Linked DNA regions of Homo sapiens: all the other regions are reported to be linked to region 4. The links are microRNA targets in miRTarBase. Many come from high-throughput screens and were not tested one by one. Region 4 holds a microRNA gene; each other region holds the end of a gene's coding sequence.
Evidence for each region. The annotated mature microRNA hsa-miR-6744-5p reads UGGAUGACAGUGGAGGCCU and lies in region 4 at 2,551-2,569, shown strand. An mRNA with a match to its seed (bases 2 to 7 or 8) in the 3' UTR can be bound and repressed. Matches are read on the target gene's strand: a 7mer-m8 pairs with bases 2 to 8, a 7mer-A1 pairs with bases 2 to 7 and ends in A, and an 8mer does both.

Region 1: the mRNA of TPI1 is a reported target of hsa-miR-6744-5p. Seed matches in the 3' UTR shown: 7mer-A1 at 2,652-2,658.
Region 2: the mRNA of MRPL18 is a reported target of hsa-miR-6744-5p. Seed matches in the 3' UTR shown: 7mer-m8 at 1,382-1,388.
Region 3: the mRNA of BLTP2 is a reported target of hsa-miR-6744-5p. The part of its 3' UTR that is shown has no 7-base or 8-base seed match.
Region 5: the mRNA of CRKL is a reported target of hsa-miR-6744-5p. Seed matches in the 3' UTR shown: 7mer-A1 at 947-953.

What each region holds. Positions count from the first base shown.
Region 1 is chr12:6,868,930-6,873,159 of GRCh38, reverse strand. It overlaps TPI1 (triosephosphate isomerase 1), which reads right to left. Exons shown (of 7, transcript NM_000365.6): 2 at 4,173-4,230; 3 at 3,977-4,061; 4 at 3,770-3,902; 5 at 3,387-3,472; 6 at 3,024-3,111; 7 at 2,212-2,895. The coding sequence ends at 2,777. SPSB2 (splA/ryanodine receptor domain and SOCS box containing 2) reads left to right here. Exons shown (of 3, transcript NM_032641.4): 2 at 163-922; 3 at 1,841-2,225. The coding sequence starts at 259. The coding sequence ends at 1,968. Among named protein-coding and RNA genes, the nearest start is that of SPSB2, 2.3 kb to the left of the region's middle. RefSeq lists enhancers at 288-527, 1,854-2,439 and a silencer at 1,078-1,197.
Region 2 is chr6:159,796,882-159,801,405 of GRCh38, forward strand. It overlaps MRPL18 (mitochondrial ribosomal protein L18), which reads left to right. Exons shown (of 4, transcript NM_014161.5): 3 at 406-637; 4 at 1,171-1,548. The coding sequence ends at 1,242. It overlaps PNLDC1 (PARN like ribonuclease domain containing exonuclease 1), which reads left to right and starts at 3,395. Exons shown (of 19, transcript NM_001271862.2): 1 at 3,395-3,502; 2 at 3,891-3,948; 3 at 4,232-4,305. The coding sequence starts at 3,427.
Region 3 is chr17:28,611,686-28,616,209 of GRCh38, reverse strand. It overlaps BLTP2 (bridge-like lipid transfer protein family member 2), which reads left to right. Exons shown (of 39, transcript NM_014680.5): 37 at 13-114; 38 at 412-546; 39 at 964-1,764. The coding sequence ends at 1,146. RSKR (ribosomal protein S6 kinase related) reads left to right here and starts at 2,025. Exons shown (of 12, transcript NM_001174103.2): 1 at 2,025-2,123; 2 at 2,522-2,770; 3 at 2,865-2,948; 4 at 3,064-3,132; 5 at 3,523-3,592; 6 at 3,844-3,948; 7 at 4,126-4,166; 8 at 4,415-4,442. The coding sequence starts at 2,049. All of the region lies in intron 2 of SPAG5-AS1 (SPAG5 antisense RNA 1), which reads right to left. RefSeq lists an enhancer at 3,661-4,524.
Region 4 is chr11:1,254,060-1,258,583 of GRCh38, forward strand. It overlaps MIR6744 (microRNA 6744), which reads left to right and starts at 2,546; the gene lies at 2,546-2,611. MUC5B (mucin 5B, oligomeric mucus/gel-forming) reads left to right here. Exons shown (of 49, transcript NM_002458.3): 34 at 33-292; 35 at 635-821; 36 at 982-1,207; 37 at 1,324-1,499; 38 at 2,097-2,166; 39 at 2,612-2,712; 40 at 3,181-3,212; 41 at 3,471-3,651; 42 at 4,040-4,144; 43 at 4,271-4,308.
Region 5 is chr22:20,949,421-20,952,420 of GRCh38, reverse strand. It overlaps CRKL (CRK like proto-oncogene, adaptor protein), which reads right to left. Exons shown (of 3, transcript NM_005207.4): 3 at 1-2,710. The coding sequence ends at 2,576. Among named protein-coding and RNA genes, the nearest start is that of LINC01637, 6.2 kb to the left of the region's middle. RefSeq lists enhancers at 1-400, 401-902.

The DNA of each region.
Region 1 (4,230 bases), not on the chromosome of region 4:
GGCGACCTGGATCAGATGGGGCGAGGGCAGATGAAGGGCCCAGGAGCTTTGGGGCAGCGAGGAGGGAGGAGCGGGCCCGTTGGCAAACTTGGGTGAAAGGATGGGGTACCTGGGTGACGAGCCCCCGCCAGGATTCTGCTCTTCACGCCCCTTTTCTCCCAGCTCCCTTCCAGGTCAATCCAAACTGGAGCTCAACTTTCAGAAGAGAAAGACGCCCCAGCAAGCCTCTTTCGGGGAGTCCTCTAGCTCCTCACCTCCATGGGCCAGACAGCTCTGGCAGGGGGCAGCAGCAGCACCCCCACGCCACAGGCCCTGTACCCTGACCTCTCCTGTCCCGAGGGCTTGGAAGAGCTGCTGTCTGCACCCCCTCCTGACCTGGGGGCCCAGCGGCGCCACGGTTGGAACCCCAAAGACTGTTCAGAGAACATCGAGGTCAAGGAAGGAGGGTTGTACTTTGAGCGGCGGCCCGTGGCCCAGAGCACTGATGGGGCCCGGGGTAAGAGGGGCTATTCAAGGGGCCTGCACGCCTGGGAGATCAGCTGGCCCCTAGAGCAGAGGGGCACGCATGCCGTGGTGGGCGTGGCCACGGCCCTCGCCCCGCTGCAGACTGACCACTACGCGGCGCTGCTGGGCAGCAACAGCGAGTCGTGGGGCTGGGACATCGGGCGGGGGAAGCTGTACCATCAGAGCAAGGGGCCCGGAGCCCCCCAGTATCCAGCGGGAACTCAGGGTGAGCAGCTGGAGGTGCCAGAGAGACTGCTGGTGGTTCTGGACATGGAGGAGGGAACTCTGGGCTACGCTATTGGGGGCACCTACCTGGGGCCAGCATTCCGCGGACTGAAGGGCAGGACCCTCTATCCGGCAGTAAGCGCTGTCTGGGGCCAGTGCCAGGTCCGCATCCGCTACCTGGGCGAAAGGAGAGGTGAGGCCTGGGGCAGACGTGGGGAGAACTTTCTGTCCCTGGTGGCAGTGGTTTGGGATGGAAACTCTTCTGACAAGAGCAGAGGGGATGGACCTTCATCCAGCCTGCCTCAACCTCTGTTCAGTGCTGGGAAAGGCTAGGGGTCTTCACAGCTGTTATTTAATTTAACCCAACAGCAATAGAGGTGAAACAGGCTTGAGAAAGCAACTTTCTCAAGTTCTCTTGGCCAGTAAATGGTGAACCTTCAGAATGGAGGGAGGAACTGCAGGGATGAGAGAATTCAGGAGATATCAACCCCTGAGCAAGAGGTGCAAAGCGTTAGGTACTGGGTTTGATGTACAGGTCCAAAAGAAGGATGGGCAGAGCCAGGTACCCAGGCTGTATACCGGATTCCCTGGGCTCTAACCTGTCTCTGTGCCACATACCTACTTCCTTCCTCAGCCACACCTCTGGATGGAGACACTGGGGCCCTGGGCACCAGGGAGGAGAGCAGTGGAGGAGGCAGGGCCTTAGGGTGGGGCAGCAGGGGAGGAGCCTCCCCAGGAACTGACTGGGTCCAGGGCTTGGAGCTGCTCTCTGCAGTTGTGTGGGCTGTAGAGTGGAGGGCCATCCCTCCTCACCTCAGCCCCAGCTCCCAAGCCTCTGGAGTCAAAGCCTGGGCCAGCTCCACCACTGTCAGAGCCACCTTGGCCTGTTGTTTAGAGGGCCTTAGCCAGCTCTTCACCCCCAGCTCTGACTAGGGATGTGTGAAATCTTATCTGGGAGGCAGAACTTCCGGGTATCTCAAATTCCCCTTTCAGCCAGGTGGGCACACTCGAAGCAGGAAAGCAGAAAGGCATCTGAGTAGGACCCCGTAGTTTGAGGACATCTGGCTGGTGGCTGCACCCATACTTACATTCCCCTCCTTCTCTCTCCCAGCGGAGCCACACTCCCTTCTGCACCTGAGCCGCCTGTGTGTGCGCCACAACCTGGGGGATACCCGGCTCGGCCAGGTGTCTGCCCTGCCCTTGCCCCCTGCCATGAAGCGCTACCTGCTCTACCAGTGAGCCCTGTGATACCACAGACTGTGCTGAGGTCTTGCCACCACCCCTCCCCTTGGGGAGGTGGGGAGGCACTGCTGGCCTAGACCAGCTGCTGAAAGCTGGTGAGGCTGAGCCCCTACCCCAACCCAAGCTCTGCGGAAATCAACAGCCCCAGAGCCACTTGGAGGGAGGAAGAAAGGGAGCCGGCGTTCAAGGCTATGACAGTCTGCTACGCAAAACATTTTTTCAAGTAAAAATAGTAAGAGATGTTGTTATAGAAACCTGTTCTTGTTTTTTTTTTTTTCTTGCACAAATGATCATTTATATAGCTGCCTCAAAAAGGAAGATTATCTGGGCAAGTCCAGTGAAGGCAGACAAACCACAAGACCTAGTGCCAGGTTTATTCCCTCACATGGGTGGTTCACATACACAGCACAGAGGCACGGGCACCATGGGAGAGGGCAGCACTCCTGCCTTCTGAGGGGATCTTGGCCTCACGGTGTAAGAAGGGAGAGGATGGTTTCTCTTCTGCCCTCACTAGGGCCTAGGGAACCCAGGAGCAAATCCCACCACGCCTTCCATCTCTCAGCCAAGGAGAAGCCACCTTGGTGACGTTTAGTTCCAACCATTATAGTAAGTGGAGAAGGGATTGGCCTGGTCCCAACCATTACAGGGTGAAGATATAAACAGTAAAGGAAGATACAGTTTGGATGAGGCCACAGGAAGGAGCAGATGACACCATCAGAAGCATATGCAGGGAAAGGGCAGTTACTGGGCTTCTGGGCTGCTTAGTCCCTGGCTTGGCAGGAAGGGTAGGGAAGATGGATGGGGCTCATTGTTTGGCATTGATGATGTCCACGAATTCGGGCTTGAGGGAAGCACCACCCACAAGGAAGCCATCCACATCAGGCTGGCTGGCCAGCTCCTTGCAGGTTGCCCCAGTCACAGAGCCTGGGAAGGGAGCAGAACAAGGGCTTGGTCAAGAATGGGATGAGTCTGCCCCATCCCCACCTCCATGTCCGAGGGCTCAGTCTAGTCCTCAGCCCACTCCACCTCAGCCGGGAACCAAAGCCACTCACCTCCATAAATGATACGGGTGCTCTGAGCCACCGCATCAGAGACGTTGGACTTCAGCCATCCTCGGAGCTTCTCGTGTACTTCCTGGGCCTAGAACAAGAAGCTGGCCTAAGTAAGACCTTTTCTGCCTCTCTAAGAGGAAAAATCACTGGCACCAGTGGACACTTAGTGTGGTTTCTGACTGAGTCAGAGTACCAGGGCTCTGATCCAAGCCAGGCCCTGGACTGGATGCCCTTGGACAAGTCACTGTCTCTGGGTTCAAGGTCTCTGTGTCTTTGAAATAAGGGGTTGCCCCATGTGGGCTGTGTCTGTCCAAACCTATTGAGGCAGGCTGGGATGAGGGCAGGGCTCCTGGGCCCGGTTACCTGTTGGGGTGTTGCAGTCTTGCCAGTACCAATGGCCCACACAGGCTCATAGGCCAGGACGACCTTGCTCCAGTCCTTCACGTTATCTGCAGGGCAGAGATACAGATGGAGGGAAGGGTGAACAAGAAAGAGCTCTCCAGCCAGGTTCTCCGGAGTACGAAGAACGGTGGCCTACTGCCCCCTAGTGGACATTGGGGGATTTCCAGGTGGCATCTACCTTGGGGCTGGAGAAGTCATAGGCCCCAAGCAAAGATTGTCACTCCCCCTCCCCTTTTTCCTTTTCTGGATCAGCATGGGGACCAAGACAGGCTCCAGGGCCTGACCCTACCCTCTGAGTCTCTGTGGCCCTGGATAGGCTCAAAGGTCCCTTTCTCCAGAGATACCTGCGATGACCTTTGTCTGCTCGAAAACAACCTTCTCAGTGATGCCAGCTTCCCTTTCATCTAGCTTCTCCCCAATGCAGGCGATTACTCCGAGTCCCTCTGCCAGAGCATGGGCCACTTTCTGCCCAATCAGCTGTTGAGAAACAGACTTGGTGAGACATCCTTCTTGGAAAAAGACATCCCTTATCTTCTCTCTTGGCTACTAACCTCATCTGACTCCCCAAAGACATGCCTTCTCTCTGAGTGCCCCAGGACCACCCACGTGGCTCCGCAGTCTTTGATCATGCCAGGGCTAAAGGAAGAGATGAAGCCAAGGTTCAGCAGGGAGCCCACCCTGTGGCTTTCCCCTCAACGAGGAAAGTGAGGGAAGGGTCCCACACACCCCTCTCCACCTCGATCTCACCTGATCTCCCCAGTAAAAGCCCCATTAGTCACTTTGTAGCAGTTCTGCGCAGCCACAG
Region 2 (4,524 bases), not on the chromosome of region 4:
TATGATTTCAGTTTTTGCATTTAAATTTTTGTTCCGTCTTATATTTATTTTGGTGCTAGCTATAAATAAAAGCAAAGAGTAAGTATATCCATGTCATGCATATGTTCAGTAACTTAGCTCTGTCTCTTCAAATCTCTTTTTGAAGTAGATCTGTAAATAAAACTCAGCTCTTCAGAAACAAATTTCTTCATGATACTTGAACTATTTAGTTTGTTATTATTGAGGATATTCTCATAAAGGCGGAGGAAAAATACTTTTCCCAAGCAAAATCCAAGTTAAATATGTTGAAGTAAATGAACCAAACACTGGATTGTTGAAAAATATTTAGTCATTTATTCACCTCAATTAATGTAACTTTAGGATACAGATTCTTCTGTGATTTTATTATCTTCTCACCCCATTTAGGTTGCGAGTTATAAGGACTCAGCATCATGTAGAAGCACTTGTGGAGCATCAGAATGGCAAGGTTGTGGTTTCGGCCTCCACTCGTGAGTGGGCTATTAAAAAGCACCTTTATAGTACCAGAAATGTGGTGGCTTGTGAGAGTATAGGACGAGTGCTGGCACAGAGATGCTTAGAGGCGGGAATCAACTTCATGGTCTACCAACCAACCCCGTGGGAGGCAGCCTCAGACTCGGTATTTTTGTTTTCATGTACTTATTGAAAAGGTATTGTGTTAATTCTTGGCATTAGATAACTTACATAATAATAACAGTTTTTACTTACCAAATACTTTCCATGTGTCAGACCCTTTGGTGAGTACTCAACAGTGTTACTTCATTTAATCCTCACATCAGTCCATAGGGTAGGGACTAGTACTCTCATTCTATACAGAAATAAACTGAGGCTTACTTGCCCAGAGTCAGTGTATGGTGGATTTCAAACCCAGGGTGACTGATTCTGTAGTCCATGATGTCAGCCACTGTATTTCCTGTTCATATATTGACATCTTGTCCATATAATATTTTGAAATGCTGCTGAACCTTGACATCTCTACATTTCCTTTTTACTTACATCATTATTAAGATCACTTTCTGAAAAACCGTTGTAGGCTGGGAAGTTAGCAAGAACAAATCAATTTATTTCTGTCTTTTGGAAGGTGAAAGTATTTTCAGCCTACTCGTGCTGCTGACTTAATCTTTTCCTTTTTTTTCTGATTTTCAAAACCAGATGAAACGACTACAAAGTGCCATGACAGAAGGTGGTGTGGTTCTACGGGAACCTCAGAGAATCTATGAATAAATGGAAGCATTAATTGTTTTGAACATGTAAATATAAATCTGTCAGCCACTACAGCCATCAAAAGAGAGCATCTGGAAGAACAGCCAGCTTGGAAGTTTTACAGCAATAATGTTGCAGTGGAATATTATTTGTAGTTAAGGTCATCCTCCTCCCCTTTCTGTTTTTTTAAATCAAGAACTACGTTCTGCCCCTCTCTTGGGCTTCAGAAGCATCTAAGAAAAGCAGTCATCAATTATAATTAACTTTCAAAGGGCAAGTCAGAAGTTGTTTATAAATTACAAAATAAAGGCATATTATGAACTCTTATTTTCTGGTTATATGACATTGTCTGAGCTCACTGTGGCAGTGGAGCACATATGAGGTTGATGTAAAGCACTTATTACTGTGTCTAGTTCATGGCGAGTGATCTCAGTGAATGACAGTTGTTTGCTGCTCGGAGTGTGGGTTGTTTTTTAAAATAGGAAATGTCAGTATCAATCTAATACTATAGAACAGTCAGTATGTGAAAATGAAAGGACCAAATGCCAACCTCACTTGGACTCTTGGTTCCCAACAGTAAGAGAAACAAATTTGAAAGAGGAAGGAGGTGGCATCAGGAGCTGAAAGCAGAGGTGGAAATGGTTGGGGTTAGTGGGCGCTCAATTTGCCATGAAGTGAACATTTTATTAGATAGGAGATGAAACTTGAAATGCATGCAAGTTAATCTAAAATTTGAGCTTGGGTAGATGGGAATCATGGCAGTTCTCTGAAAGGAGCTGATTAAGGTGTTAATTTTTGGCTATTTGATAAATGTGAGAAAAAACCTGTAGGCAGTTAAGGTGGCTTCTAGAGCATTGTTTTCCAGTTTTTTTAATGTATACCCCAATTAAATGTTTGTTTAGAAGTGAAATATGTTACTTCTGCCAATTTGAGTATTCAATGTGTTATTTTAAATGGAACACATCTGTATGAAGTATGATTTGTTCTGAGAGGTCTTCAGAATCAAATGGCTTAATAGTCCCCTTTTGCTTAATTAATGTCCCGGAGAGGCATTTAAAAGTATAATTGAAGATCGGATGCAGTGCCTCACACCTCTAATCCCACCACTTTAGGAGGCTGAAGCAGGTGGATCACTTGAGGCCAGGAATTCGAGACCAGCCTGGCCAATACGGTTTAACCCTATCTCTACTAAAAACAAAAATGAGTTGGGCGTGGTGGTGCATGCCTGTAATCCCAGCTGTTCAGAGGCTGAGGCGGGAGAATCGCTTGAACTCAGGAGGTGGAGATTGCAGAGAGCCGAGATGGCACCACTGCACTCCAGCCTGGGTGACAGAGTGAGACTGTCTCAAAAGGAAAAAATAAAGTATAACGGTAATGTTTTCTCCGCTAACCTTAAAGATTGATTTGAGCACCTCACTTTGAGGACCATAGTTCCAAAACGCTGTTCAAGTAGAAGCCTAGAATTCAAGGGAGGACACTGTAAGGAAGACCATGGACTAGTTGCACTGGAAACAGTAACAAAAGTAAAAATTAAGCTCACATGTATGTGATGATGTAGGTAGGGATTTCCGCAAGGAGTGAGTGCACGAGATAATCCCTGGGGACCAAGGATTCCTTCAATTTAATGGGCAGTTCTTGAGGCTTTGCAAAGTTTGATTGCAGGTGTGAAGACAGTGGTAAGGTGGACAGCAGAATGAGGAAAAAGATGTCCAGGGGCGTGGGAGAGGGAATGGGGACAGACATACTGGCAGTGATGGAGAAGTTGGGAAGAGGTGATTTAGAAGACCGTGAGCCGCAGCAAAGGATCTGCTTATTGCAGTTGCGTCCGGTGTTGTTCCTGCTCCGCTTTTCTGATTTCACCCTTTCTGGACTCTGTCTTCGTCTCCTGCCACGCCTCTTAACATTCTAAGTCCATGTAAATGACATTCTCACGTTAAGGGCTGCAAAGAAATTGCTGAGGAGCCAGGTAAACAGGCTTTGATTGCAATTGCAATCAAACCTCTGTAGCAAATCGTACAATTAAAACACCCGCAGGCAGGTGTGGGCGACGCCAGCAGCACACGGGGAAGCTGGGCACGTGGGGCGGAGGCAGCTGCCTGGTTTCCATGTGTGCGCCCTTTAAGACCCGGCGGCGCGACGGAAGCGCGTGGGCAGCACGTGGGCAGCACGTGATAGCGCTGGGCGACTCCGCGGAGCTGCACGGCCATGGACGTGGGCGCCGACGAGTTCGAGGAGAGCCTCCCTCTGCTGCAGGAGCTCGTCCAGGAGGCCGACTTCGTGGGTGAAGAGCCTGGGATTCGCGGCTGTGCCGGACAGAGCCCCTTGCCCCGGGCGAGCTTGAGGAGGGGGTGGCGGGACGGTTGCCAGGCCACAGGGCCTCAGAGAGGGCCTCGGGAAGGACAGGGGGGCTTCCTTCTCCAGCCCCGGGGCGGTGGGACTTTGAGCAGCAAGTACACTCCGAGCCCCACGTCCCTTGTTGGCCAGAGCCCCGTGCGCCCAGGTGCCTGGCTGCTCCTTGCCTTGGTTCCTCCATTTTCCCTTCCTGACCTCACTTGGCTTCTTGAGCGCAGAGGTGAGCGCGGGTGCCTTGGCCGCCTGCAGATCTACAGTGTGAGGAGTGCTGGCGATGTTCTGCACCCGAGGACTGCTATTTTTTGCCTTCCTGGCAGGTCTGGACATAGAGTTCACGGGCCTTCGTTCTAACCTGTCTGGGCCCCAGCAGATCAGGTAAAACTAAAGCTGTGTCCCCTCTGTATAAGAGCCTGGCCAGACCAGCACTGTTTCTGGCCAGCAGCCTGTTGGCATTTGGGGGGCAGGACGTTTTGTGTGGCTTGCTCCTACGTGTTGGAGGACCTTGCTTTTTTCTGTCCACTAAATGATGGTAGTGCTCCCTAGTTGTTGTAACAAGGAAAAAATCCTCCCCGGTTGCGAGTGGTGGTCCTGCCGCGGAGGCCATAGTGCCGGGATGGGATGTCATTGCTCGTGGAATGAGATGCCTGTTTGTTCACAGTCTTTTTGATTTGCCATCGGAGTGGTATCTAAAGACCCGTCAGAGTGTTCAGCAATTTACAGTCTGTCAGATTGGTGAGTTTAATATCAGCTGTTAGAGTTTTTCAAGAAGGTATTTTTATTGTCCTTGGATTTCCTACTGTAAAAACAGCTCTGAGATTTTTCAAGGATATTGAGTATCGTTTTGTATGCTTGTTTTGTGTTGGGCCATTGTATACATATGGAAATCAACACTTCGGAGCAAACCAAATTTAGCAGCATTGTTTCCGTGCTTAAATAAGTCAGTATTAAGGA
Region 3 (4,524 bases), not on the chromosome of region 4:
TGCCTTTCTTAGCACCCTGTGGATGACATTGACAAGATGAAAGAGCGAGCTGCCATGAACAACTCCTTCATCTACATAAAGATTCCACAGGTTCCACTGTGTGTCAGCTACAAGGTCTGCACCTCTCAAGCACTTTGTAGAACAGGGTGGGAAGGGAACCAGATAAGATCAGAGATTCTATACAGGGAGACAGCTAGGTTGTTTGTGATGCTGAGCTGTGGGTGATAAATCTGCTGTTCCCTCTGCTCCCCTCAAGAGTCAGCATCATTACGAGGCTGAGGTAAGGGGAAATCAGTATCTGTAGGTTACTATTGTAGGACTTGGCACTCAAGTGGCTGGCTGGGACTCAAAATGGCAGCTGATGTATTCCCCACCCCTCTTTTTTTCTTTCCCCTCCCCCTCCTCTTACAGGGTGAGAAGAACAGTGTGGACTGGGGTGACCTTAACCTGGTGCTGCCCTGTCTGGAGTACCACAACAACACATGGACATGGCTAGACTTTGCCATGGCTGTCAAAAGGGACAGCCGCAAAGCCCTGGTTGCCCAGGTATCCCGCCAGGGCTCATGGCTGTTTGGCTAATGGGGCTGGCAGGCAGATCCTCTTTTCAGGAGCCTTTCATTTTAGAATCCATGAATAAATATCCTTGGGAAGGGGCAGGTGCATGAAGTGAGTGGCTTCTATGCCTACCCTCTCCATGACCTCACTCAGATTATTAAATTCAGTGTTTACTGAGTGTTTCGTATAGCACCATTGATTTTAGGGAACTGAGAGCTAACACAACCTAAAGTTTAGAAGGGGTTATAATTAGACTGTAAGCTTCTTGAAAGCAGAGACCATTGTATGTGAATTGCCCCATTGTGCCTTGGATGTGTTTAATAAATCTTTATTGTCTTGGTTCATTTTGATTTATTCTGCCTGCCCACTAATATTTACATTTTCTTTTACTCCTCTCCAATCTGCCAGGTAATCAAAGAGAAGCTAAGGCTGAAGTCTGCAACAGGCTCTGAGGTCCGGGGAAAGCTAGAAACTAAATCGGACCTGAACATGCAACAGCAGGAAGAGGAGGAGAAAGCCCGGCTCCTCATTGGTTTAAGTGTGGGCGACAAGAACCCTGGCAAGAAGTCCATCTTTGGCAGGCGCAAATGATTTGGCGATTCGAGTGGCTGCAGTACAGGATCTGACTCTGGCTCAGGCTCCAGGGACTTGTGGGGTGGGAGGGGCTTCCCGTTATCCACGAGGATTTGTGGGTGTCAGAGCCCATAGGCATCACTCTTCAGCACCTGGTCTGTTCGCTGCAGGGCATGGTGGACAGTAATGCTGAGTTCTGTCTCACACTGATCAGGCTCAGGGCCAGAGAGGCAACAAGAGAGCAAGACCCAGGGAATGGGCCCAGGGCAGGACCCTATTCCCTTGGGGTCAAGTGAAAGGGTAGGGGGATAGTCCTGATCAAGTGTGATAAATTTTTATAGACATATATAAATATATATATATTATATATATATTTCTAAGTGTAACTGTCCTTCCTCTGTGCCAGGAAACGGGAGGGGGCTGATCCTCTGATCCTCACTCCACTGTCATGTTTGAAAGAGGTATTGGTGTTCTGGAGTGGGGGTCAACCCCTCCCCAGTCTCTGTGCTAAGTTCACTTGGGAGGATGGCAGTAGGAGCCAGGGCTGGCCATGGGTCCCCTACCCTTCCCCGTAGGATATACCCTGGAGAATGGCAAAATGATTTAAAGAGAAAAAAAAAGATATTTTAAATTTGATGCTCATTTTTGTGTGTGTGTGTTGAGTGCATGCATTCAATCTGTGTATTCCTCCCTCATCAACCCAGAACATCCTGCAGCTGCCACTCTGAGGGTGGCCCCTTCCTTCCTCTGCCCTGAAGCTGTATCACAGAAATTTCTAGTCCTAGTGTGACTCTGGCCCCATGCTGATGGGTTTCTGCAGACTGGAAGAGGCGGGGCTCGTGTCACGCAGCATCAGGGAGAGGAATTGCTTATATAACTGGGACAGCAGATTTAGCAGAGAGAGGAGGCAGAGGCTGGGAATGGGAGCAGTAAGCTGTCGGCAGGGGCAGCACACCCAGCAGGGGGAACACACCCGGGTGGCTGTCCCTCACAAGGTAGGCTGTGGGGCTCTGGCAGCCTACTGAGGGGAGGAGAGGGAGACATGGGCTTGAGTCCTGGGAAGTTCCTGGTTAGGAGCATGGAAGTGATTACCCAATGTGGGGGTGGGGCAGGGAGGCTGTACTATGAAAGCATCACAGCCCAATACTGAGGTGCAGGCTGTACTCTTAATGCGTCATGGTGAAAATGTCCAACAATTATTTTCCTAGAGGATTTGAATTGTGCCCAGGAAATCTGGGGCTTAGCACAAAGCAAGGGTAATGGGAATTTTGCCTCATGCTCAAAAATGTACCTCTAGGGGTTGAGACTTAAGGGGAGGGAGTGCCTAGTAAGATGGGTGGAACCTGCTATGCCTCAGGAGCAGAAAGTTTAGAGTGGCTCCCTTGGTTCTCAGCAGGGTGGCAACATCCGGGGTCCCTGGGCCCGAGGCTGGAAGAGCCTCTGGACAGGTTTGGGAACCATCAGGTCAGATCTGGAAGAACTCTGGGAACTACGGGGGCACCACTATCTGCACCAGGAATCCCTAAAGCCAGCCCCAGTACTGGTAGAGAAGCCTCTGCCAGAGTGGCCAGTGCCTCAGTTCATCAACCTCTTTCTACCAGAGTTTCCCATTAGGCCCATTAGGGGGCAGCAGCAGCTGAAGGTAAGTCAGTGGAATCCCTGAGTGGGGTCTCAGTCTTTGGGAGAAGTTAAAAATGACCAGTCTCAACTGGCCTGTTCTCCATTCCTCTGTACAGATTTTAGGCCTCGTGGCTAAAGGCTCCTTTGGAACTGTCCTCAAGGTGCTAGATTGCACCCAGAAAGCTGTATTTGCAGTGAAGGTAGGGGCGTAGATACCACATTAGTCTCTGTTTCCAATCTTGATTCCAGAGAGGTTGGGAGGAATAAACAATTCAATAGCACTATCTATGAGTCATCACTACTCTCCTTTTATAGGTGGTGCCCAAGGTAAAGGTCCTACAGAGGGATACCGTGAGGCAGTGCAAAGAGGAGGTTAGCATCCAGGTATGCACAGAGTCCTGGAAAGGATTGTGGGAAGAGCTAGGCCACAGGTAGGGAAAGTACCTTTCTTGCCCACCTTCTTTTCCTGGTTCTGCCTCATCCATCTGCTTCAGCCTAGTTTAACACTAAAGTAGATCCTGGGAAAAGTATCAGCTCTCAACACAGTTTTCCCATGTCCTACTAGGGAAATCTCTGAAGCATGTCCCAGTGTATTCCTTAGTATTTGCTGGTTCTAGGATTACCAGATAGTCAGTTCCAAATATTGAGTTCCTCTGAACTGAGAGGTGAGGCAGCAGTTCCCCCTCTGCACATCTGGGTAAAACCTGATTTCTCAGCTGCCTTTATTCTCAATGACCCTGTTCCTCCCTAACTTCCTGTTTTCTTTGTTCCTAGCGACAGATCAACCATCCCTTTGTACACAGCTTGGGGGACAGCTGGCAGGGAAAACGGCACCTTTTCATTAGTGAGTGACTGGACTCTCTCCTCATCCCCCAGGGTCTTTGTACCATGTTCCCCACCTGAGATTACCTCTTTGGCTTGTTCTGCCTTTGCTCTGTCCCCCTTCTCATGGCACCTCTCTGTCCCAAAGGGAGGGGAACAGCAGGTGGTATCAGTTTGGGCAGGAGGCCTACAATGCCTTGAGCCCAGGCATTGCAGCTCCCAAACATTGCCTAGACTTCTGGCAATGTATGTAGCTCCACACTGGCTTTGCAGTGTGTAGCTACTGCAGCACAGATCTGTACTCCCTTTGGTCGGCTGTTGGCTGCTTTCCTGAGGCTTCCATCCGTCTCTTTGCTGCCGAGTTGGTGCTGGTACTGTGTAAGTGAAACAGTGGTAAAGGAAATGGGGAGGGAAGATTTAAGTTCGGAAGAAGGAGAGTAAAAAATTAATATTAATAATGGAAGTTAAAGAATAGGATAGGGATGGGATGAGGGCTACTAGGGAAACTGGAAAGGACAGAAAAGCTGCAGCATACCCCATACTTGTTATCCACAGGTTATCTCCATGACTTGGGCATCATGCATCGAGATGTGAAGGTAGAGTTAAGTGCTTTTTTCCCTTTGTCTGAGAAAGAGTCTCAATAAGAAGTGCCAACAAGTCCAAGAAGTTAGGGAGCTGAGAACTGTAGACATTGGGGCCCCCATGGGTGCCAAGGATTTGGGGAAGGGCTCTCTGAGTATAGATTTGAGTGCTGAGTAGGGCATCACCTTCAGCTGGGGTGTATACATGATGAAAGAGAGTTGAAAGGAAGAGGAAGAATTACTTCTCACCTGTGATCTTTCAGATGGAGAATATTCTTCTAGATGAACGAGGTAAGTCTTTTTCCTTCCTTAGCCCCAGGATGAGAGGTACTTTGGTTTGGGAATAAATCATGGCTGATGATGGGTGGAACAG
Region 4 (4,524 bases):
AGCCTGCCAGCCCGTCCATCTCTGTCCCGCAGGCATCTGCAGCATGTGGGGCGGCTCCCACTATTCCACCTTTGACGGCACCTCTTACACCTTCCGGGGCAACTGCACCTATGTCCTCATGAGAGAGATCCATGCACGCTTTGGGAATCTCAGCCTCTACCTGGACAACCACTACTGCACGGCCTCTGCCACTGCCGCTGCCGCCCGCTGCCCCCGCGCCCTCAGCATCCACTACAAGTCCATGGATATCGTCCTCACTGTCACCATGGTGCATGGGAAGGAGGAGGGCCTGGTGAGTCCAGGCTGCGGGTGGCACAGTGTTGGCCCAGTCCCAACCGCACCTGGGCAGGCCGACTGCAGGCCGGGGTGACCCAGGTGCCGCAGCGATGGCCCAGTGCCCAAGACAGCTCCCAGGGGGCAGGGAAGGCCTGTGGAGCCGCCTAAGGCCGAGCGCACCCTGTGGCCTAAATGCAGCCAGCTGGAGACTCCAGGCCCCCAGGGAAGATCTGGGCTTTGGGGTGGGGGATACACAGGGGGGTCTCTGCACATGGAGGCAGAGCCCCAAAGAGAAGCCCTGCTCCCCGAGCCCACCTGGCACTGCCTCCCAGCTCAGGGTTCCCCTGGATTCCCCCAGATCCTGTTTGACCAAATTCCGGTGAGCAGCGGTTTCAGCAAGAACGGCGTGCTTGTGTCTGTGCTGGGGACCACCACCATGCGTGTGGACATTCCTGCCCTGGGCGTGAGCGTCACCTTCAATGGCCAAGTCTTCCAGGCCCGGCTGCCCTACAGCCTCTTCCACAACAACACCGAGGGCCAGTGCGGTGAGTGGGCGGCGGGTCCTGCCCCGGCCAGGGCTGCTGCTGGGCCTGACAACCCAGTGAGCATAGGGGAAGCCTGGGGAGGGGAATGAGTGGGGGAGGGGGGTGGGGGCTGTGAAAGGCTCCCCAGATTCCAGCCCCGCGGTGACGCCCCCACTCCCAGGCACCTGCACCAACAACCAGAGGGACGACTGTCTCCAGCGGGACGGAACCACTGCCGCCAGTTGCAAGGACATGGCCAAGACGTGGCTGGTCCCCGACAGCAGAAAGGATGGCTGCTGGGCCCCGACTGGCACACCCCCCACTGCCAGCCCCGCAGCCCCGGTGTCTAGCACACCCACCCCCACCCCATGCCCACCACAGCCGCTCTGTGATCTGATGCTGAGCCAGTGAGTCCTCCCCTCGGGGGTTGCAGGCCCTGGGGCGCCCCCGCCCGCCCGCATGCACGCACGCACGCAGCTCCCTGGGGCTGGGGGCCCTCCGTCCTGATCGCTTTGCCCCACAGGGTCTTTGCTGAGTGCCACAACCTTGTGCCCCCGGGCCCATTCTTCAACGCCTGCATCAGCGACCACTGCAGGGGCCGCCTTGAGGTGCCCTGCCAGAGCCTGGAGGCTTACGCAGAGCTCTGCCGCGCCCGGGGAGTGTGCAGTGACTGGCGAGGTGCAACCGGTGGCCTGTGCGGTGAGTGGGGGCGGCCCCGGGCCCCCCAGACCCCTCGGCCTCTCTGAGTGTCCTGTGCGGTGAGTGGGGGCGGCCCCGGGCCCCCCAGACCCCTCGGCCTCTCTGAGTGTCCTGTGCGGTGAGTGGGGGCGGCCCCGGGCCCCCCAGACCCCTCGGCCTCTCTGAGTGTCCTGTGCGGTGAGTGGGGGCGGCCCCGGGCCCCCCAGACCCCTCGGCCTCTCTGAGTGTCCTGTGCGGTGAGTGGGGGCGGCCCCGGGCCCCCCAGACCCCTCGGCCTCTCTGAGTGTCCTGTGCGGTGAGTGGGGGCGGCCCCGGGCCCCCCAGACCCCTCGGCCTCTCTGAGTGTCCTGTGCGGTGAGTGGGGGCGGCCCCGGGCCCCCCAGACCCCTCGGCCTCTCTGAGTGTCCTGTGCGGTGAGTGGGGGCGGCCCCGGGCCCCCCAGACCCCTCGGCCTCTCTGAGTGTCCTGTGCGGTGAGTGGGGGCGGCCCCGGGCCCCCCAGACTCCTCGGCCTCTCTGAGTGTCCTGTGCGGTGATTGGGGGCGGCCCTGGGCCCCCCCAACCCCTTGGCTTGTCTGACACCTCTCTGTGCCCACAGACCTCACCTGCCCACCCACCAAAGTGTACAAGCCATGCGGCCCCATACAGCCTGCCACCTGCAACTCTAGGTAAGTACAGGGATGGCTGGTGCCTTCCCTGCCACCCAGGCCTGCCTGACCGGTCTGGGGGAGCAGGAGGAGGCCAGAGGGTGTCCCACTGTGGGCCACAGATCTCTGGGGTGCCCGAGCCCAGGACTCCTTGGAAAACATCCCCTGCTGCTCCCAGATGCCTTAGAGACAGAGTCAGGCAGGGGGCGCATCCCTGGCCACGCCTGGCCCCGCATCCCCACCTGGCCCCGCCACCGAGCCCCACCCATCCCCGCCCATACTTAGCCCCGCCCACCCCCACCCCAGCCCCACCCGTCCCCGCCCCCAGCCCCGCCCACCCTGAGCCCCGCACTCCACCCATTCATCTCCTTCCCTGCTCCCCACTGCCCATCCTGGGGACTCACGTGGATGACAGTGGAGGCCTCCTGGATCTCTAGGTCTCAGGGCCTCTCTTGTCATCCTGCAGGAACCAGAGCCCACAGCTGGAGGGGATGGCGGAGGGCTGCTTCTGCCCTGAGGACCAGATCCTCTTCAACGCACACATGGGCATCTGCGTGCAGGCCTGCCGTAAGCTCCGCCACCTGTGGCGGGATACGACCCTGGGCCCGACCCAAGCACACACAGGGTGGGAGGAGCCGCCCAGGACCATGATGTGCTCTCCCCTCTCCCCAGCTGACCCCCGTGACCTGTTCTGCCCCACCAGAGCATGGGATGGCCCCAGAGTGGCCCTGAACCCTGCAGAGCCCCCACGGTCCCCTGAAGCCCCACAGGGAGGCTCTGTCCTTGAGTGATCCTGTGATGGTCCCTCCCCTGAGCCCTGCCTCCCACCACCATGGACGAGGCTTCCATGCACTGACAGCTGGGCTCACGGTGCCCTGGCCTGAGCTCCAGCCACATCTGACACCCCAAAAGTTCTCCAGGGCCTTCCATCCCGGGGGGAAGCAGGCTCCAGGCCTGAGAGCACCTCCCATGGCCAGAGGCCCCTCCGCCTGCAAACTCAGCACCCTCCGTGATGCCATGCTGTTTTCTTTCCAGCCTGCGTGGGACCCGATGGGTTTCCTAAATTTGTGAGTGGCTCCACCCCCACCTGCCCTACCCCACCCTCTCGCGAGCTGAGGGAGGGAGGGAAGGAGCATCCCCATCCCACAGGGCAGCTGTGGGGCGCCCGAGTGTGACGTGGACGTGCCAGTGGCTGGTGTGCGCTTCCTGCCCCATCACTCTGGGCCACTCGGGTACCAGCCCGAGGGAGGGGGTGGCTGGACAGATGCCCAGGGTTGACCTGTGTCTGTCCAGGAGCCCTCAGGGACCCCCTTGATCCATTCCAGCCCGGGGAGCGGTGGGTCAGCAACTGCCAGTCCTGCGTGTGTGACGAGGGTTCAGTGTCGGTGCAGTGCAAGCCCCTGCCCTGTGACGCCCAGGGTCAGCCCCCGCCGTGCAACCGTCCCGGCTTCGTAACCGTGACCAGGCCCCGGGCCGAGAACCCCTGCTGCCCCGAGACGGTGTGCGGTAAGACGCTGCAGAGCAGAGGTGCCCGGCATAGGGTGAGGGGGGACAGAGCCGGTGCCCACCAGGGGCCTGTGGGTTGGGCACAGGAGAGCAGAGGAGAGCCACTGTGTCCTGGCGTGACCGCGGCAGGACCACTCGGCAGAGATGGCCTCCAGGTGCTTCATTCTCCTCCTAACGATGAGGCTGGTGACCTCTGGCCTGCCCAGGAGTGGCCCAGGGACGTGGGAAGCAGCGGGGAGGTGGCCAAGCAAGGGGCCTGGAGGGAGCCCCCAGGGGCTGTGAAGCGGTCAGGTCCTCGGGGAAAAGCACGCCTGCGACTTACTCTGGGAACAAGTGGTCGGGAGGAGGAGTGAGCAGCGCCCAGACAGTGGCCTCCATCCTCCCGCAGTGTGCAACACAACCACCTGCCCCCAGAGCCTGCCTGTGTGCCCGCCAGGGCAGGAGTCCATCTGCACCCAGGAGGAGGGCGACTGCTGTCCCACCTTCCGCTGCAGTGAGCGGGGCTGGGGCCGGGCTCCTGGGTGGCCTCTTGCTGGGGGTGGGGGAGTGCAGGATGGTGGGGGCGCTGGAGCACATGCTCCCCACCACTTGTCGAGGGCTTAGCTCCCTTTCCTTCCAGGACCTCAGCTGTGTTCGTACAATGGCACCTTCTACGGGGTAAGGGCACAGCAGTGGGTGGGTGTGGCCCTGGGGCCTGAACATGTGTGTGGGATGCCCCGGGGCTCTCTGAGCCCCACTCCTTGTCTTGACATTCCTGCCCTGAGGGCCGATCCGCACAGGGGCCCTGGACACGTCAGAGCTGGGACATGCTTGGGACTCAGGGGCACCTTACGTCGACAGCCATGAGCTCCACAACTGCTGCCTCTGAGAGGT
Region 5 (3,000 bases), not on the chromosome of region 4:
GAGCTCTGAATCTCCTGGCAGCCCTGGATGCCATTTTCATGGGCTGAAGTAACGAGCTGATTAATTATAAAACCAAACCACAGGTATACTCTAGGTATATCTGATTCTGAAGTGCGCCACACAAGGTGAGTCGGGGTATTGGTCAGTAGACAGGGCTGAAAGGAAACCTTGCTTTCCAAAATGGCCAGACTTCTTGCACTCTGAGTCAACTGCTGTAATTCAAAGGTGTCAAGCCCTTCAGCTAAATCTGGTTGAAAAAGGCCTAAGGGTCGTGCCCTCCTTGAACAAGGCACACATTCCTCCCTCTGTTGGAAACTCCACTCATGGCTCAACATGGGCCGGGATGAACCACGTCACTGGCCAAAGGGCAAACACTGTTTCTAGGCAGAGTCTGGGGACTCTTGTGATATGTCTGCCACTTGTGGGTGCTACGCCAGGCCTGAACCCAAAATAAGCCAACCTGACACACCTAACCAGAAGCGGCAACTGCCGCAGACCGTGCAGAGCAGGAGGCGGTCACCGTTCTCACTGGCAAGGAAGGGCTAATCTCCAAGGCTTTTAGAGGAAAACCACAGATGGGAAGCCATGGCGATAGTTTTCCCAAATGACCATTAATTCTGTCTCAGGAACACTCTCAAGATTCATGAATACAGCAGTTATCTGCCTGATGGAATACTGATTTAAAGAAAAATTGAAAAATGGCTGTTCTGCTGGTTCTGTCTCCAGAATGCATTGCTCTAAATCTCAAAACCTAGGAACCTCCAGACAGGGCCACAGTCACAGCAGATGATCAGTAAATGAAAGCTACTCAGTAGGCTGCTGCTACATTTCTAGGTCTGCTGTGTTCACTATGAGCTGAGGCTTTTCTTTACCAGGGTCCACAAGGGAGAGCAGACTGAATTGCACAGGGTTCCCAGAATTCTAGTCTGCTATGTGCAGCAGATGATGGATGAACCACACGTATATACCAGTTGGCTTGTATGAACAGGCCTCTTTTAGCTAACAGGGAAATGCTTTAACATCAATACACTGATAAGTGGTTAATGATAAACTAGTTAATGGTCTCCCTAGTCACTAAAACACTAAGACATCAAATACATTAACGAATTTCCAGAGCTTGCATTTCCTTTGCTTGGGAGCATCACAGACACTTACTTAGACTGTGAGACCAGTATGAGCAGCACCAACTTTCTCTGGCAGCCTGACGAGATTGGGCCTGGGCACGGAGGTCTGGGCTTCAGTGAGTGGAGTTGAACGATTCATTAATGAGTCCAACGATTCTATGAACAACGCCACTTTTTAAGGAAGTTTAAGTCTGAACCTTAAAGGGGTACATTCACTGAAAAGCTGAACAGAAAACTGGCCAAGTGCCCTCCAACCCACTGCTCTTATCACTGGCAAAACAAGGTAAGCAAAGGTTTCCCTAAAGTACCCCCAACTCTGATGCTTTTTAAAACAAAGTAATCCAAGGGGCTGTGCACATAGCATGGCACACCACAACTGCATTATTTTGTGTGTTGTCTGCTACATGGCAAAACAAGGTACTACTGGCAACCAAGACAATAAAGGCCTCTGCTTCAGGGTTGTTCTTTTCAGATTCCTTTAGTTACAGCAGCTTCAGTTTAGAAGCTCAGAGGCATGAGTCATTCCTTGCACTATCATAAAAACCCAACCTGCTACTTAACCTGTTTAGAACACACAAGTCTAGGCCAGGCGCGGCGGCTCACGGCTGTAATCCCAGCACGTTGGGAGGCTGAAGGCGGGTGGATCACCTGAAGTCAGGAGTTTGAGACCAGCCTGGTCAACATGATGAAACCCCGTCTCTACTAAAAATACAAAAATTAGCTGGGCGTGGTGTGCGCGCCTGCAGTCCCAGCTACTTGGGAGGCTGAGGCAGGAGAATCGCTTGAACTCAGGAGGCGGAGACTGCAGGAAGGCGAGATTGCGCCACTGCACTCCAGCCTGGGTGATGCAGCGAGACACCGTCTCAAAAAAACAAAACAAAACAAACAAAACAAAACAAAAAAAAACCCCCACACAAGTCTAATTAATTAGTTTTCCAAAACCAAACCAAAACAAAAGAAAAAAAAAAGCCAGATTTTGGAGTTTTAGAACAGAATTCTCTCTTCCTTAAGGTTCACTTCCTGTTGTCCAAAGAAAAGCAAGATGGCAGCTAAGCCACTGCTTTGTGGAACAGCAAACATGCAGTATCTCGCCATGGCCTCAAGCTTTCTCTGGTGAACACAACAGAATCAGTCCCATGTACAAACGGGCAGCAATGAGAAGGAAGACCCTTTCCATGTCAACTTCTCTCCACTTGTGTGCTTCCATCAGTATTTCCAGTTTATGATCCAAAAGAACTCTAAAATCGGCTACTCTTTGACAATACGACTATGATACAAACATCAGGAGGCAGCCGCTGTGTGCATTCCAAATGTGTGTGCGACTGCCAGTCTGCAGAAAGCTGGACTTCGGCAATGCAGTGTGACTTGCCTATGAGAGAAAATGCTTTCCCACTTCAAAGGAGACTAGGACAGGCAGAACAACAAAGCAGCAGGAAACAGGGCAACAGCAATCACTCGTTTTCATCTGGGTTTTGAGGGTCAAAGATTTTGACGTGCGTAAAGGGGAAAAGCCCTTTGCGCCCGTTCACTTCGCCTTCCCACTGGCCATTTATATTCATCCTTGTGACTTTCACGATGTCACCAACCTGTATGGATGAAGAAGACAAAGTTAGCATTTCTCTGCAACAAGAAAAAGACAGTTTACATTAAATCACAAACACTACCTTATCCAAAGGGCCCATACATTATTATTTAGACACAGGGTCTCACTCTGTTAGCCATGCTGGAGTGTAGTGGTGAGATCCCTGCTCAATGTAACCTCTAACGCCTGGGCTCAAGTGATCCTTCCACCTCCACCTCTTGAATAGCTGTGACTACAGGCGTGCACCACCATGCACATTATTTTTTAATTTTTTATAGACGGGGTCTGTCGCCC